2 separate regions of the Homo sapiens genome follow, and region 1 is linked to region 2. Evidence: fine-mapped expression QTL. A gene starts in region 2. The other region holds a variant in brackets. All regions are shown on one strand. Distances are from middle to middle.

Region 1 (5,360 bases), 29 kb after region 2:
CCAGCTGCGGGGTGGTGGTGGCTGAGGCCCCAGAGCCTGCCAAGTGCCTCTGGGGTCCCCCAACTCTGTCCCTGGCTTGGCCTGTGGGCCACCCTGCTGCCTTGCCAGGTGGGGAAACCAAGACCCAGCTCTGGGCACCCAGCAGATGCTCGGTGAGTGTTGAACGGAGGGATGAATGAGTGAATGAATGAAATCCAGAGTTGGGTGGGCACCTAGCAGCGCAGCTCCCCCTTATGCAGCCAGCCCAACTCACGCCCATGTTCTCCCTCAGGTCTCTGTTTTCTCATCTGAGAAATGGCTCCCTGTCCAGCAGGACCTGCTCTGAGCTCTCCCCAGCCCGGATCTGGAGGCAGTTTCTCTGCCCTGCCCTTCCCACTCCTGCTTGGCTGGGGGTGAGAACCCCTGCAGGGAGCAGCTCAGGAGCCTCCTATCTAGGGAAGCTGGGGAGAGGGAGGCTGGGGCCAGCCCACAGGGGAACTTACCGCGCTTCACCCGGGCAGGCTGGAGATGGGAGTCCTCAGCTCTCAGCTCTGCATGCAGCCCGGACCTCGCCTTCCTACGGCCTGACGTCAGGCCAGCGCTTGGGGCTCCTTTTGGGCAAAGGCAGGGTGGGGGCGGGGCAGGCTCCTTCCCCGCCCCCAGGAGGAGTCAAGGCTCAGAGCCTGAGGGACGGTGCCTGGGGCACCAGAGTCCCCACACCCACTGGAGACAGAAGAAGAAACCGAGGCACAGAGGGGCCTGGGGCACCAGAGTCCCCACACCCACTGGAGACAGAGGGGGAAACTGAGGCACCGAGGAGCTGAGCCTCAGCTGCACCATCCAGGAGGTGGTGGCTGGCACTTGTGTGTGCCGTGTGCAGGGCAGGAGGTGGGAAACTGAGGCACGGAGGGGCTAAGCCTCAGCTGCACCATCCAGGAGACAGTGGCTGGCACTTGTGTGTGCTGTGTGCGGGGCAGGAGGGGGAAACTGAGGCACGGAGGGGCTGAGTCTCAGCTGCACCATCCAGGAGATGGTGGCTGGCACTTGTGCGTGCTGTGTGCGGGGCAGGAGGGGAAAACTGAGGCACAGAGGGGCTGAGTCTCAGCTGCACCATCCAGGAGACGGTGGCTGGCACTTGTGTGTGCTGTGTGGGGGGCAGGAGGGGGAAACTGAGGCACGGAGGGGCTGAGTCTCAGCTGCACCATCCAGGAGATGGTGGCTGGCACTTGTGCGTGCTGTGTGCGGGACAGGAGGTGGGAGCACACGAAAGCCCAATTTCCTTCCCGGGAGGGGGCATGTGCATGGTAGCTTCAGCCCACGCAAGCCTGGGTTCCTGCATGGCTCTCTGTTTTGCATGTGTCCTGGGTTTGGCTGTGTCTGTGTGTACCCATGACCGACAGCCTGCACACCTGGCATCTGGGCCTCTGTTTGCACCCATGCACCGGTGGCATGTGGCATGTGGGGTCAGGTGTGTGGGAAAGACCTGGACGTGACCCAGGCCAGCAGGTGGGGAGAGCGTGTGGGACCCGGACCTCAGTGCTGGAGGAAGCGTGAGCTCATCAACAGGCTTGATCCCAGAGGGCTGCTGGAGGGCCACTCTCCCCAGACAGCTTCAGAGCCAGGAGGCCTTGTGGCCAGCCTGGGGTGGCAGCGGGGGTTGTCGGGGAGCGGTTGGGGCCATTTAGTTAGTGTCTCCTCTGCCGAGAGCACCATCTCCTCTTGTTCCCATCCCGTGTGCTTCTGCTGATACTCACACTTTAACCTTCCAGCCGCCTGAGTGCCGAGGCCCTGCTGAGTGGGTTGTACTGCACACCGGAGACTCAGGGAAGGCTCCCCAAGGGAGGGGCTGGGCCTTCCCGAGCTCAGGCTGGTTGTAATGCAGACCAACAGGAGAGAGTAGGTGGGCCCTAGGGTCCTGACCCAGCCTGCTGGGGAGGGATGCCGTCTGGGAAGGCTTCCTGGAAGGGGCAGAGGGAGGTATAACAGGAGGCAGGCAGCCCAGATGGGCAGAGGGACAGGAGGCCATCAGAATATTTCCTGGGGAGCAAAGCTGGGAGTGGGCAGGGGACTTCTACACTGAGTCTCAGCAGCCTCTATGGGTACCAGAGTGCTGCAACAGGGAGCCATTGAAAGTTCTGGGAGAGGATGGTTTCTTCACTCTGGAGCAGCCTCCCTGCGGCTGCAGGGCTGAGCCCACAGGCTGCAATTATCTCCTTTAGAACATCGTTGTGTCTGTTTTAGCTGGGGAAACTGAGGCCCAGAGAGGCACAGGAGTCTCTGGCCACCAGCCTCTTGCACCTCTCTGGACCAGGACTGGCTCCTGGCAGGCAGGGTTTCACCGGGCTTGTGGAAGGTGGGGGTGGATGCAATGTCATTTTTGTGTGGGGGTGGCCTGGAGGCAGCCCAGATTGGGCAGGGCTGGAGCCAGAGGAGGCTCAGATTTCCTGAGCAGGCGAGGGTGGCTGAGTCACCGCACCAGTGCCAGGCCTCATGCCCACCTCTGAGGGCCTGGGGCTCCAGCCTTGCACTCTCAGGCTTGTTCTCAGAGAAATCTCAGAGACGGTCCCCCAGCAAACAGCGGGGAACTGCCTGGGGAGGGGTCACAGCCCACGCCAGCCTCCCTGACTCCTCCCCCAGGGAGACTCTTCTCAGCAGGACCCAGGGATCCTCTTGGGGGGACACCAGGGATGGGGGTCCCGAGCTCAGGGCCAACACTCCACAACCCTCAGAGGAGACAGGGCACAGGGACAATTTCCTCCTTGTCATCTTTATCAGGCTGGCAGGTCAGGCCAGGCTGTCTGTGACTGGGGTCAGGGGTCAGAGGTCAGAGAGTGGCTGTGCCCAGGGTCAGGACCCCTTCAGGTGTGTCTGACTGGCCCTTCGCAGGGCAGGAC[T/C]GCTCATCCTGGGCTCTGGCACACTTTGCAGGGTGGGAGGGGCCCCTTGGGCAGACACTGTAGGGAACTGGGCCTGGTGGAGAGCCCTCTCAAGCCCATGGAAGCATCCTTGGAGGCCCTGCCAGCGGTGAGGCATCAGCAGCCTACCATTCCTCCTTCCCCAAGGGACAGGGTGCAGGGAAGCGCCACAATGATATCTCCACATGAGCCGCCAGCAGGGCTACCAGGCCACCCTGGGCAGGAGGCAGAAGTGGCCCCTTGTGAACCTCCATGGGAGCCAGGTGGACCCATGGCTCCTGTCCTCCACCCTTGGCCTGTGACGCCAAGGCCCTCTCGCTGTGGCAGCTGCAGTTGGGAATCCCATAACGCTGCAATCAAGACTGACAAGCCCCGCCCATCATGGGCAGTGCTGGCACTGTAGGGTCCCCATCCTGAGGGATGAAGCCAACAACGGGCCACTGAGCAGTCCCCGGGGTGGAGAGGGCTCAGGATAATGGGGAACAGCAGATGGTGGTGACAGGCGGGTTCTGCCACCCCTGCTGGTGCCTGACACCGCAGACCTCGTCTGTCCTCCTGAGAGACCCTCGTCTTGGTGCCACTCGAGGATGTAAACAGCCCCGGGAGGCTGGCAGCCGTTTTCTGCCATGTGTCCAGGGGTGAGGTCCTCCCAAGGGGGCCTGCGAAGGTGGGGTGATGCCAGCCAGCTCTGCAGGACTCCCACCTACTCGAGAGGCCAGAGCTATGGAGGAGGGGCAGAGGGGGAGTGCAGAGCTTCCAGATGAGGGGTGATCGGGAGACCTGCAGGCTCCTTCCTGGGGGGTCCAGTGCCCACAGGCCCTCTCCTGCACTCTGGACTTGCTGGGTAGCGGGCAGGCACCTGCCATTGAGCTGGGGTGGGCAGGAGCCTTTCTCTGCCCCAGGGAGAGGTGAGCCTGCATGTCCAGGGAATGTGGGGGCCCCTTGTGCAGCCCTGGGTTCAAGCCCAGCCTGGCGCCTCCCTTGTCTGCTCTGATCCTCAGCCTTGGCCCTGTGGCCTGTGCTCACGGCTGGGAAGGGGCGTCCCTCCTCTCAGGAAGCGCTGGGTCCTGCCGGCCACATCACAGCTCCACAGGGAGGCTCAGCCCCACAGTGGGAACCAAGGAAACTGGGCTGGGGGTACAGGGACAGGACCAGCCCCAAGGCCCACAGCAGTGAGGGGCAGCCTGGGCCCAGTCTGCGGCCTCCTCCTATCTGAGGGGAAGACGCGGACCCCACGGTAGCAGAGCATGTCGGGGCTCCAGGGGTGGAGGCTAGAAGAACCAGGGCAGGCTATGAGACCCTGCAGGGCAGAGCCTTTGAGAGGTGGGTGGGGAAGTACCCAGAGTCCGGGATCATCCAGGCCAGTCTTGGCTGAATGCCTGGAACTCAGCCACAACTGGGGACGTCCAGGGTACCTGGTGCTGTGCCTGGTGCACAGTTAGCGCGCGGCTCTGGGGCTCTAGGGAGTCATCCTAGGGTGGCTGCTGGGACTGCTACCCTCTGGGCTGGCCCCCTCGGTGCCCCAAGGCACCCCCTTATGCCTGCTCAACACTGAGGGTTCCCCCCAGGGCATCTTGTCTCAACATCTGCTCTTACACACAGGGAAACTGAGGCCCAGAAAGGGAGGAAGGCCTGTCCAAAGTCACACAGCAAATGGGGCATGCAGACCCTGGCTGGAACCATGCCTGGCTTGCAGCCCCCCAGTACCCTTCTGTTAAACCCAGTCTCATGGACTGTGGGAAGGGGCACCCACAGAACACTGCCTCATCATGGGGTCTGGCAGGGCTGTGGCCCTGGCCACAGCTGGCACAAGGTGGTGAGACTCAGTGTGGGCTGGTACTGCTGAAGGGGCCCACACGGAAGAAGCTGCAGCCTTGAGCCCCATGGAGCCCAGGGAGGGTCCCCGCAGGGAATGGCGGGGGACAGCAGCGCGGGGCTTATTGGTGAGAAAGCAGAGGGAAAGCCCCAGGCTCCTAAGACCCAATCCGGGAGGGATTGCTGGTGGAGGAGGTCTGGTGACCAGCCTTGCAGGCTCTCCCAGGATTCACACTGGCTCTGCCTGGCCTTGCCATGGGTCCAGGAGCCTGGGGTGAGGTCTGAGTGTGGAGTGTGGAATGCGTGTGGGGCTAGCTGAGTCTTAGCTTACAGAATGGGGCAGCAGGGCCTCAGGGGGAACACTGGGACCAGAGGACCTTGGAACCCGCCAAGTTGGCCCCACCTTTTATACATGTGGAGATGAAGGCCGGAGAGGGGCTTCAGCTATCGAAGCTCCGAGGCAGCTCAGCTCCATGCCAGCCTTCCTGCCACCTGGGCAGGGGTGCCCCTTCACGCCCTGGCCTTCTTGTGGCCAGCCAGGTTACAGCTGGCAGCTGGGCAGGGGTGCAGTTCCCACCATCTGGGTCTCCAGGCCCACCCAGGGCCAGCCCAGGAGGTGCTGGGTGAGTGGTGGGTTCCCCCAGGGCAGAGACA
Region 2 (5,360 bases):
GCCTCAGCCTCCTGAGTAGCTGGGACTACAGGTGTGCGCCTCCACGCCCAGCTAATTTTTTGTATTTTTAGTAGAGACAGGGTTTCACCATGTTGGCCAGGCTGGTTTTGAACTCCTGACCTTGAGTGATCCGCCCACCGTGGCCTCCCAAAGTGCTAGAATTACAGGCATGAGCCACCGTGCCTAGCCTGTTTTTTTTTTATTATTTTTAAAATTTTATTTATTTATTTATCGAGACAGGGTCTTGCTCTGTCGCCCAGGCTGGAGTGCAGTGGTGCAATCTCAGCCCACTGCAACCTCTGCCTCCTGGGTTCAAGCAATTCTCCAGCCTCAGCCTCCCAAATAGCTGGGATTACAGGTGCCGGCCACCACGCCCGGCTAATTTTTGTATTTTTAGTAGAGACAGGGTTTCACTATGTTGGCCAGGCTGGTCTTGAACTCCTGACCTCAAGTGATCTGCCCGCCTTGGCTTCCCAAAGTGCTGGGGTTACAGGTGTGAGCCACTCCTGGCCTCACTTCTATTTTTCAAACCGAGGGTGATGCTTAACCCAAGAGTAGGTGCTGTCAGGCCGAAACATCTGTTCTGGTCCTTGGCTGGCTTTCCCAAGGCCCTGAGTGTCCTAGGGCCTTGTGACTTCCTCTGTGAACTGGAAAACAGCCCCCAACTCCAGTCCCTGCCTGGCTAGGCTTGCCTGAGCAGAGCAGAGGTGAGAGGCAGGAAAGATCCAGCAGCCTCAGAGCTGTGAACGGTGCCAGCCCCGTGATTGACATGTCAGCCGCACTAATAGTATCGCTTCATCTCTCCAGACTCTCCCTTTCCCGGTTTGTCCACTGTTCTGTTTGGAAATAAGGTTGTGCCCTTAGTCATACCTTGATAAGAAGGGAGACGCCCCTGCCTGCCCTCTCTCTTCTGTTCCACCTCCTCTGCCGAACGTTCAGGAGCTCCTCATTCAAAAGACCGTCAGATGAAATGTTTGCTAGAGATAACACTGTGAAGCATTTAGAAACACCTTGCACCAGCCTACTTCTTAAATACTTGTTAAAAACGAGATCACACCCCAAATAGAGTTTCATAGAATATACCTTTTTTATTTTTCATTATTTTTTGAGATGGAGTCTCACTCTGTTGCCCAAGCTGGAGTGCAGTGGCGCAATCTCAGCTCACTGCAACCTCTGCCTCCAGATTTCAAGTGATTCTCCTGCCTCAGCCTCCCAAGTAGCTGGAATTACACGCATGTGCCACCACACCTGGCTAATTTTTGTATTTTTAGTAAAGACATGTTTTCACCATGTTGGTCAGGCTGGTCTTGAACTCCTGACCTCAAGTGATCTGCCCACCTTGGCCTCCCAAAGTGCTAGGATTACAAGCATGAGCCACCGTGCCTGGCCTCTTTTTTAAATCCAGTTTTTATTCAGCAGAATGTTCCGAAAGATCCAGAGGGTAACATGTGGGCAAAGTCCCTGAGCCCTGGCTGGGGTGGCCTGGGTGGGGTTGCCTTCCTCCGACACCCAACTCATGTGGGCCCTGGGCGCCCAGCACCGGGTTCCTTCCCCCCAAACCCATCTCATCTGGACTCTGGGCACCCAGCGCCGGGTTCCTTCCCCCAGGCCTTGAGCCTGGCTTTGCAGCTCCTGCTGCCCCAGGGCAGGTGGTGGTGGCCGCCCAGCCCTCACCCAGCCCCGAGTCCTGTGTGGAAGGCGATTCCTCCCACTTTACCGGGGAGGACACAGAGGCTGAGCGTGGTCACGGCCGGAGCCCCAGCGCAGCATCTGAGCTGCAGGCTGGCCGCCCCCCACCCCGCTGCACCCCCATATTCCACTCACAGACCTTCTTCCTGCTGAACACAGCTGGGCCCTGACGCCTCTGTGCCTTGGCCACAAGGCACCTTCTGCTCACTCAGCTGTCCCTCCAGTCCCCGTAGGGCTGCAGACCCAGGCCCACCCAGTCACAGGCCTGGCAGCGAGGGGGAACAAAAGGGTCAAGGGGCCGCCCAGGGCTGGGAAGGGCCTTGCTCCACCTCGCTCTCCTCCATTCCCCGTGTGGGCCTCCGTCTCCCATTCTGTGAAATGACCCGTTTGGGCCACAGGGTCCCCAAGTCCTCTTGGCTTGGGGCCGTCTGTTCCAAGAGGAGGGGCCATATTGGTCCTTGAGGCCCCTGCGGCCCAGTAAGTCTGCAGTGAGGCCTCCCTGGACGTATATATCAACAAAAAGTCAAACTCCGTAAAGTGTTTGAGACATTTATTCTGAGCCAAAGATGAATGGCCGGGGGCCCATGACAGCCCCAGGAGACCCTCAGACCATGTGTTCAAGGTGGTCGGGCCACAGCTAGGTTTCATACATTTTAGGGGGACACAAGGCATCAATCAATACACATAAGCTGTACATTGGTTACGCCTAGAAAGGCGGAACCACCGGAAGCGGGGATGCTTCCAGGTCATAGGTGGATTCGAAGATTTTCTGATTGGCCGTTGGTTGAAAGAGTTATTGTCGGTAGATAGGAATGTCTGGGTTAAGATAATGGGTTGTGCAGACCGAGGTTTCATCATGCAGATGAAGCCTCCAGGCAGCAGACTGCAGAGAGAATGGATGGGAGATGTTTATTATCAGACTGAAAGACTGTTCTGCCAGTCATTCCAAAAGGGAGGGGGGATAACAAGGTATGTCCGTCTCCCGCTTCCCACCGTGGCCTGAACTCGCTTTTCAGGTTCACTTTGGAATGTCCTTAGCCAAGACGAGGGTCCGTTCGTTTGGCTGGGGGTCTTAGGATTGATTTTCTGGTTTCCATATGCAATGGGAGTGGGGGAGAGATGGGGTGGGGGCAGCCTGAGGCTCAGCCCTGGCCAAGGAAGCCCCCTCCAGGCATTGGCCAGGTTCTGACTCCTACAGTGTTACAGCCGGCAGGGAACTTGGACCCACAAGCTCCTCCCCTCCCCAAGCCTCAGTTTCCTTGTTTGTAAGATGATGCCTGGGGTCCTTGCTTCCTTGTAGGGCTCAAACAAGATCCCAGGCTCTATTAGGAACAGTGCCAAGGCAGGGGGCCCCCAACAGCTCAAGCAGGCTGGAGTTTGGTGCTCACGGAGTAGGGGAAGCTGGTGGCTTCTCAGGCTCATGACATTGTCCCTGCAGGGTGCAGGGCTATTCCCTGGTGGGGCTGGGGGTGTGTGTGGCCATTGGCAGGAGCCCCGATGTTCTCATCCATGAGTCAGCAGAGATGGGAACATCAATTTATTTGAGTGGCTGGTGCAGCCGAGTCCTTGGAGGACAAGGAGTTTTTGCCAAGCCTGGGCCGAATGTGCCAGGGCTTGGGGCAGGGAAACTGTGTCCAGGGACACAGCTTCAAGGGCCCCTGGTTGATGTCCCCAGGGCCTGCTGAGTGCCAGGCCCTGGGACTCAGAGAGGACACCACCCGATGCAGGCCCTGGGACTCAGAGAGGACACCACCGGATGGAGCTGCCCAAAGGGAGTGCCAGTCGGATGTGGGGGTGGGGGAAGAGGAGGGACCAGGATGTGACGGGTCCGAGGTCTCACGGGGTGCCCAGGTGGGCTGGATTTACAGAGCATGGGCGGCCTGCAGGACCATGAAGGGGCAATGGGGGCAGAAGACAGAGGTTGGAGGCAGGGTGGCATGGAGGGTCTCGGGGCAGGGGCAGGAGGGTCTCCAGGGTGGTCAGTCTGCTGCAGTCAGCAGAGGGCACTGGAGGGGCCTGGGCTCAGGCTCCAGGTAGAGCTGACCTAGCCCAGAATGGGCAGGTGAGGGAAGGCCACCGCCTGGTGGGCTTGGCTGTCCCCTCACCTGGACCCCATCGCCGGCCTCTTCCTTGCACGGGGTAGATGCTCATTGATGTGGTGACGTCTAGCAGGAGGATGGCCCTGGGCAGGGCTGTGAGCTGGGAGACCTGGGCTGGGATCTCAGCTTTGGGCCCACACACTGGGATGGAGGAGTGTTTACTGCTGTCTCTGAATGGCTGCAGGAAGGCTGAGGGGGCACATGGTTGATGGGCCAGGCCACTCTGGGCACAGTTGCTGAGAGTCGGCTCTTCCTAAGTGGGGGCACCCGGGGTGGTGGAAGGGAGTCAGATGCCAATTCCCAATGGGTCCTGGTGGTCGTGCCCTGCTGCAGGGCCTTGGCACCCGCCGCCATAGCCATGGAGTCCAGGGGGGCCCCCAGGGGCTGGAAAGGCAGGGAAACAGATTCTCCTTGGGAGCCTCCAAGGAAGCCAGCCCTGGCTAGCACGTCTGTGCTCTGTCTCTGGCTTTGCCTGTTCTGGACATCTCTGGAGGTGTGAGCACCATGTGGCCTTTCGTGTCTGGCTTCTTTCACTTAGCACGGTGGCTTCAGGTCCCTCCGCATTATCGCATGTGCCAGTGCTTTGCTCCTTTTTACACCTGAGTAATCGTCCACTGTGGAGTCATCCTTTCAGCTGCTGAGAGATGCGTGGGCAGTTTCCACCTGCAGCCATCGTGAGTAGTCGGGTGAGGCTGCTGAAGCAGACGAGTGAGGGCACTGCCCGGGCCATTTGGGCTGGAGCGGGGGTTTGAACTCCTCTTTGTGGGACGGAGGCTGTGTTCTTGCCCACACCTCTCCCTGCTCCAGGCCTGTCTTCCCCTTGGGACTGGGACTATGACTTGGTGGCTTCAGCCTCCGCAGGGTGAGCCTGATCCTGAGAGTCAGGCTGGGCTGAGGAGGACGGGTGGGCCTCCTGGGGGAGGTGACGACTTCGGACTGGACCTTGCAGGAGGGATGGGCTGTCTGAGGATGGGAGATGGGAGGAGGTATTGCAGGTTGGGCAGCAGGTGAGGCTGAGCTGGGAAGGGAGGTGGTTGAGGCTGGTTCTTGGGCTGAGTGCTGGGGAGGGGTCGGCCGGGGATCACCGAGAGGTCCCTCCAGGCTGCATGAGCAGAGGAGACACCCTACGGGTGATCTTCTTGCCTTTGTTTCTAGAATTCACAAATCCTACAATTCTAAGCTCTCAGAACCCTTGGATCTGAAGGTTCTCAAATGCTAAGGTTTCTAGATGTTAGCAGACGAAGGTGTCAAGACGCATGGGATCTACGATGCAGAGTTCTGAGTGGGGATATGCGTCCCCCACCCCGACTCACCCCACGACACATATCAGTAACAGCCTCTGCAACTCCGCCTTGGTGCCCCCGCACGTTCCAGGGGCAGCCACACTGATGGATTGCTCAGAACGGGCTGGAGGTGAGATGTGTTTGCCCGGAGCCCCCACACACTGTCGTCTCCAGCTGTGCCTGTCCCTCCCCACCTTCCACTCTGTGTCTCTTCCCTGCCCCCCTTGTGCCCCAGCCCCAGCCCCCCCTGTTCTTTCCTGCCACCCAATCCTGTGCCCCACGACAAGGA

Evidence for each region. PIP is the estimated chance that this variant, and not a neighbour inherited with it, causes the effect.
Region 1: its variant is the best candidate, but not a certain one, in a credible set for the expression of LINC01300 in sigmoid colon (GTEx, PIP 0.66).

The regions. Positions count from the first base shown.
Region 1 is chr8:141,366,719-141,372,078 of GRCh38, forward strand. It overlaps GPR20 (G protein-coupled receptor 20), which reads right to left and starts at 568. Exons shown (of 2, transcript NM_005293.3): 1 at 483-568. RefSeq lists an enhancer at 1,331-1,880 and a silencer at 2,245-2,427. The variant T/C (reference allele first, on the strand shown) is at 2,874.
Region 2 is chr8:141,338,015-141,343,374 of GRCh38, forward strand. LINC01300 (long intergenic non-protein coding RNA 1300) reads left to right here and starts at 2,535. Exons shown (of 4, transcript NR_024441.1): 1 at 2,535-2,658; 2 at 4,327-4,462; 3 at 4,944-5,201. RefSeq lists a silencer at 716-1,010 and an enhancer at 4,159-4,659.